Homo sapiens: one gene and its partner. The protein of the gene in region 1 purifies or fractionates together with the protein of each later gene. This does not show direct contact. Each region holds a gene or a part of one and is shown on either strand. Other genes may lie near its edges.

Region 1 (3,500 bases):
CACTCAGGCCTCTGGATGTGCATGACTCCTTTTGGGTGGGAAATCCTTACAAACTGGTTTTGCTCTCTGCTACCTCTTCTTTCACCACTGACTCTTTTCTCTCAGCATTTAAACATGTTTACACCTGTGTGTCATTTTGCAAGGAAAAAAAAAACTGTTCGCATCCCTGTTGTTTTGGTTTTCCCCATGGTAAAAGTTCTTGGGGCCAGGCACGGTGGCTCACACCTGTAATCCCAGCACTTTGGGAGGCCAAGGTGGGCACAGCAAGAGGTCAGGAGATTGACACCATCCTAGCTAACATGGTGAAACCCCGTCTCTACTAAAAATACAAAAATTAGCCAGGTGTGGTGGCACGTGCCTGTAGTCCCAGCTACTCGGGAGGCTGAGGCAGGACAATCACTTGAACCGAGGAGGCAGAGTTTGCAGTGAGCCAAGGTCACACCACTGCACTCCAGCCTGGCGACAGAGCGAGAATCCATCAAAAAAAAAAAAAAATTCTTGGAGGAGTTGCTTACCTCTGTCTTCACTTGGTTTTCTTCCATTCACCCTTAATCCACATTTAATGTGCACCTCTTCCCCACCATTAATGCTAGTGCCCAGTGTTCCCCCAATGCAGCAATCCTATTCTAGCTGTCAGACTCCATGGACATTTGGGGGCCTTAACTCACTCAAGCACTTACTGTTGACTTTGTTCTTGAAATTCTTCCTTTACTTTCAGGACCTCTCACGGTTTATTCTCCCACTTCACCACCTCTTCTAGGGCAATTGTGTTCTAAAAATATCACAGGAACAATTGCACAGGCATGAGGAGCACAAATTCTCTCTTTGTGCGCCTCAGGCCTGGCTCAATACCTGCTATTTTCTCATTCTAGAACAACTTTCATGCCCCCTTTTTCCTAGCTAACGCCTAGTAAGCTTTCAAGATACAACTCCAACACACTGTGCCTCCAGAAAGGCCTCCCAACCTCCAAACTGGATGAAGTATCCGTTTTCTATGTATCCATAGCATCTGTGCAAACCTCTACCTTGCACTAGATTGCAGTGATTTTAATTTCCAGGTCATCTGTCTTGCTTTGTCAAGTTATCTATAAACCTCGTGGCAACATGTATGCACAAAGCACAGCATAAAATGGATGTTCCACTCAAATTACTCAAATGGAATTGAATCACAACACAGATGGGAAGTCCTATGCTGGAGAGGACCCTTAAGTTTTGGCTTCTAAAACCTTTATTTTTGTCATTTGTTATTTTTCCCATAATAGCATCCCACAATTGTATTCTGTGCTTACATTTGTCTTCCTCACTACTGTGAATGCATGGCCGGGTCTATCTTGTGCATTGCTGTGTTCCAGCATGTAACAGTGCCCACCACAGAGGACATGCTAAACAAATACTTACTGATGAACTGACCCTATATGTGATATACAACGTGTCTAACAATAGGTGCACAGTCACATTCTTATACTATGAACATATGAAGTTGGCTTGCTGGTTGATGAGAAGTATGAGTGAGGTCTCAGGTGACTGGCCTAGTTGATGACTTAGTTTAGGAAAACAGGAATCTCTTTGACTTGGACTTTTTTTTTCTGGCTGTCGTGATCAGTTTATGGGTGTCTCAAAATGACTCTAGAATATGTAGAAACAGCCATTATACCAAATTCAGAGAGAGTATAAAGATTCATAGATGGGCATTAGATTGAGATGTATCAGATATTGCTTGAAACTGGCCCCTGGCTGAAGGAGCCTCTGAAGGAGAGTCTTGCTGTCATGACAGCAGCTTGTAGGTGCCTCCTGAGCAAGATGACAAAGTGCCCCCTCCATTTCAGAAAAAACTTGCAGACCCTTCCGTATCTTATTTGGATTTTTCTGTGTCTCTTCTGGAGTTTACTAAAAGTTCCTTTGTGTTTCCCACAAACATCTATTTCCCTAAACTTTAAGTATCTGATTAGTGTTGAGTTTTCTATGAGAATTTCCCAATTCTTCATAACTCACTGTGGTAACTTTCTGTCAGCAGAAACATGCCTTTTCTTAAGGGTCTAGAAGCAAAAGGCAGGGGTGAGTACGGAGGCAAAGAGAACCATCATTTACTGATGACATCAGTGGGAAGCAGGCTGCTGGGTGCTGATACAAGTTAAGTGGTTTAATATTCACACCATGGGCAGCAGGCGTGACAATACCATGGTAGAGTCTCACCATGGTTCACAAAACCCTGTGTGATGATCTGGTCCCTGCTTTCCTTTCCAAACTCACCTCCTATCACTTTCCTTTTGCCAGATCCAACCACAATGGCCTCACTGCTAGCCTTAGAGCATTGCCTACGTCAGAGGAGGAACATGGAATCTGCTCTCCTAAGCTGTCTTCAGCCTCACTCAAATGTCACCTCTTTAGAGAAGTCTTCTTTGTCCATTGCCCACCCTAACTAAAATAGCTGCCCCTTTATTCTCTAGTCCCTTATCATATTTTATTTTTCTTCATGGGACTTATCATACTTGATATTACATTATACACACACACACACACACACACACACACAAACACACACACACACACATATATATATACAGGAATACATATATATACACATTTATATGTGTGTCTGTGTGTATAATATCAGATATGACACTATATATTATAATATTGATATTATACATTACAATTATATATAATATAGTATGTATTATATCTACATTTATTCCTATATTTTCAGCTAGAGGGCAAGTATCTACATTGTTCACTGTTGTCTTAATCACTGTTGTGTCCCCAGCACCCAGCCTGGCACCTGCTACATAGTAGGTCCTAGATAAATATCAAATGAATGCATCTGTTACAGAAAAGAACATTGAGGCACCACCAAGTGTCTTCTCAATGGAGTCAGACCTAAATTCATCTCCCCGGCATCTTGGGAAGGCAGGATTTTTGAGCTGAACTCCCTCAGTCACCCCTTGCTGTACCCTTGTCTCCTCACTCTCTTATGCTGGTATCTTGGGGCCCACAGAGGAAATAACCACCATTGCTGGTCCCTCTCACACCCAGGTGGACTTGAGGCGCCAGCAGATTTCCCAGGCTGTGGAGGAGGTGCAGAAAGTCGTTCATCATTTGACCACAAACATCAGCAACCAAGACATTAGATTTCAAGCTGTGCCTTACTCTGACACGTACAATGAAAATATTAAGGTAAGCAAGTCTTGCTGTCTCTAAGTGCCACCAACAGAGCCAGGACACTTGGGCAGGTGAATCTCAGTGTGTGACAGATGCTTGCCTCACTCAGAATACTCATAACAATTCTTGTTTTCATAGGTATTCTTAGTTTTTACTATTTACAGTCTCATTTTATACATGTCATTTCAGCCAGCAGGGTGCCTTATGCCTATAATCCCAGCTCTTTGGGAGGCCAAGGTGGGAGGATGGCTTGAGGCCAAGAGTTTGAGACCAGCCTGGGCAATGTAGTGAGATTCTGTCTCTATAGAAAAAGAAAAAAAGATAGATGTTATTTCCTTTGA
Region 2 (3,500 bases), on another chromosome or scaffold:
CTTTGAGTGTCTTATTAAATGGAAATGTCATTTTAGGAAAACAGTCCTAAAGTCCTTAACTCAAGTTTCTACCATTTTACTGCTAGGGGAATGAAATGTGCATATCTCATCAGCAAACTTATTACCTTCTGAAAGCCACAACCAAGGGCAGGAAATGCAATCCTAGCATTATGATCATGGAATAAGAAATATGTCTTGAGAACTACAGGTATACAATAAAATTGGGAAGCAGATCTCAGTGCAATTTGGTTTCCCTCGGTATGTAATTTGATCGCACTGGTCTAGAGAAAACATCATTTGAGATTCAAAGGTTAAGGCCAATCTTCAGGAGCGCTTGAAATAAGGCGTTTATAATTCCATCATCTGTAGGGTCAACGCCTCAGGGCTCTCAGGTATAAAAACCTAGTATGATTAATGATAACCAATGGGGAATGATGGTGACAACTCTGACAACTTGGTTGCAACAAGAAAAATTTGTTGAAAATGTTAGCAGCCCCATCCCACTGAAGTGAATCCCCCCAAAAGTAATTTGAATCACTATAATGGAAGGTCGATAAATACATGTACCTGGAGATAACACAACCTGAAAGGGCTGATGTACTTTCCAGGTTAATACATCAACCTCATGATACCTATTATAATAGCAATCTGCCACAGGGGAGCCCGGTCTCCTTTAGCACTTTCAACCTTCAACAAAAAGCTGGATGGAATATTATAAAAAATGAATGCAGTCCTTTTGATTATTCAAAGCTGCATATTCTATACAAACACTGCCACAGACTTAGTTTTTCAAAGTTAGGCTTCCTGTAAAACATTTGGCCTATATGGATATGCACATTAACTATATGTTCAAAGAGCAAGAGTAGACAGCAGCCTGGCAAATTGTCACTGACTCCCACAGAGGCTATTAGAGCAACTCTTCTGAGTGGGTAGAGAATGATAATGTATTTTACAGTGATACAGCACAGCCTTCAAAATGCTTTTGCATACCTTATCTCACTCTGTCAGCATGACACTTCATGAACTGTTATGCTGTCCATTTTACAGGTGGGTAAATTGAGAATCAGAGAGGTGTAATAACTTGTCCTGGATAACACAGCTAGCAAGTGGTAGCGCCAGGACCAGAAGTCAAGTGTGCTAGTTGAAACAGCTTTTATAGGCTCAAAGCTATGATGATATGGTTTATCTTTTCACCAGTCTCACGGGGGCAACTGTGAACTGATATAAACATTATGGAGTATAATAATAGCTTGAGTTTTTATTTGCAAGAATGAAAGGCAGTTTGTGGAAAATGCATGGTGATCTATTTTCTACAAAAGGTATATAAAATAGGTTCTGCAGCTATGGAGAGTGATAATTTAATGTTCTCTGGGTGTTAAGAAAGAAAAGAGCTACTGCACCGATACTTTCCCTCCTTCCTTAGATGTACTCCAGCAGCCTACGCCTTGTTGCAGACCTCACTGTACTATTAGTGGAATTATCTCCAAGGTTTCTGTTATAATTGAAGAAGTGTGTACCCCAAAAAGATATGTTAAAGTCCTAACCCACAGAACCTCAGAATGTGAGCTTATTTGGAAATAGGATCACTGCAGATATAATTAGTTAATAGGTAGAGGAGGCCCGTAATCCAATATGACTGGTGTCTTTATCAGAAGACACTTAGACACATGAGAGAAGAGTTAAAGTGCTGCAGCTGCAGGTCAAGGAATGCCCAGGATGGCTGGCAACCACTGGAAGCTAAGAGGAAGCAAGGAAGAACTTTACCCAGAATGTCAGAGGGAGCATGGCCCTGCCAACCCTGAAGTCAAACCTTGATTTTGGATTTCTGGCCTCCAGAAACATGCAAGAATAAATTTCTGTTATTTTAAGTTACCCAGTTTCTGGTCCTTTGTTGCAGCAACCATAGCGAATGGATACAGTCTCTATTTAGGCAGTGATGGGTAAACCAATACTCTGAGTGGGAAAGTAACTCAGGCAAGGTGAAGGACTGAGTGGGAACATGAATGTTTTTCCATATATAAGGTGGAATATAGTTTTCTATTAACATCCTTACAGTTCCCTGGGATGGGGGAGAGGGAGAAGGGAGAAGGAGAAAGTAGGTCATCAAAGTTTATTTGTTCATATCTCTATAAATATTTGGTTTTCTGTTTCCACAGGGCCCTCTATTCCTACCAAAAGTTTATCTCAGAGTGGGGAGTAAGCAGCCCTAAAAATACATGGGTCTGTTTCACCTTCTTAGTTTTGCTTCCTAGAGAGAGTTTAAATCATGTGTGCAAAAGCATAATAAAACCACTCTTGAACTCTTTGAGAATGTCCATTTTCTCTAGACTAAATTTTAGAAAATACATGCTAAGTGTTGAAGCATGAGTACACAGCTCTTTCCACAGTTGTCTTCACTAATATCATTACACTGTCATTTATTTGGTAATCAGCAGATATTATGCCAGGGCAGAGGAGGACCCCAAACTTGTTCAGTAACCTTTGCTGGGCTTTGCTTAATTCTGTACTCGTGCTGGGGAAGTAGTGGCTGTTGGGGCTGAAATCTATAGTGAAATGGGGAAGTATTACCTCCCCACTGCCCATAGATGTTATAGCTTCCCTTATTACCACTATCTTTGGCTACAGGAGGTGTTGGAAAGGGACGTGTAAGCACAGCCCCTCATGTTTCTCAAGGATAGCAGATGAAGCATTGTTCTGAATAGCCAGATAATAGGGTTCCTGGGCACACAGGAGAGATGCTGACTAAATGTGTTCAGATAAGAAAGCTTTGGGGTATTTATCCCAAAGTCTTCTTGTTTCATCATTCCTTTGCATCCAGAGTTAATAAAATAAACAGCAAACATAAATGCATGTGTGTGGGGGGATAATCAGCTTCTTGTCAAGTTACTTCCTGCAAGAGATTAGCACAAATGGCAGTCAGAAGCCATGAAATTGTCACTTTTTCATGCACAAATATTTCATGAACATCCCCCCCTTCTCTGCTCAACTCTTTGGTAATTCATTGTGATCAATGACTAGTCAGTAATTTTTGAAGCTCCAGAAGTGAACTTGCCGGCATTTATTTTCAAGCCACTATAAATCATTGCTTTAAAAACAGTTGATTTTTTTTGACAGCCTTTTGGTCAGGTGTCATATAATTTTATTTTTCCTTCTCTGGTGCAAAATAATACCTTTTTAAAAACAAATAATTATGGCGAATGCAATACCTCCAGCCTTTCTTCTTGATGATGCTCCCCAGAATCACTTCAGCCCTGGAAGGGGAAACAGATAATGTCTTAGAATGCAGTGTCCTGGAAAAGCAAGAGTCAATCCAGAACACAAGAACCATTCCTTGTTTGAACTCTCAGTGCCTACATATCCCGAAAATAGAAGCCGCTCTCGGCTGGTAGCACAGTTTCCGCTGTTTCTGCTTGTGCCTGCAAAATCCTGCTCCGGAGCATTCCAGAAGCACCTGCCAAATCCTGACACGCTGGCAGGAGACCGCCTGCAGTCCTGATACT

Evidence for each region.
Region 2: the proteins of MAB21L3 (region 1) and KCNAB1 purify together in Homo sapiens (co-immunoprecipitation; one large-scale study listed by IntAct). This does not show direct contact.

Annotation. Positions count from the first base shown.
Region 1 is NC_000001.11:116,117,899-116,121,398, forward strand, and holds part of MAB21L3 (protein mab-21-like 3), read left to right. Parts: intron 1-3,033; coding exon 3,034-3,174; intron 3,175-3,421; exon of another isoform or gene 3,422-3,460; intron 3,461-3,500.
Region 2 is NC_000003.12:156,459,578-156,463,077, reverse strand, and holds part of KCNAB1 (voltage-gated potassium channel subunit beta-1), read right to left. Parts: intron 3,252-3,500; coding exon 3,207-3,251; intron 1-3,206. UniProt on the Homo sapiens protein: Regulatory subunit of the voltage-gated potassium (Kv) Shaker channels composed of pore-forming and potassium-conducting alpha subunits and of regulatory beta subunits.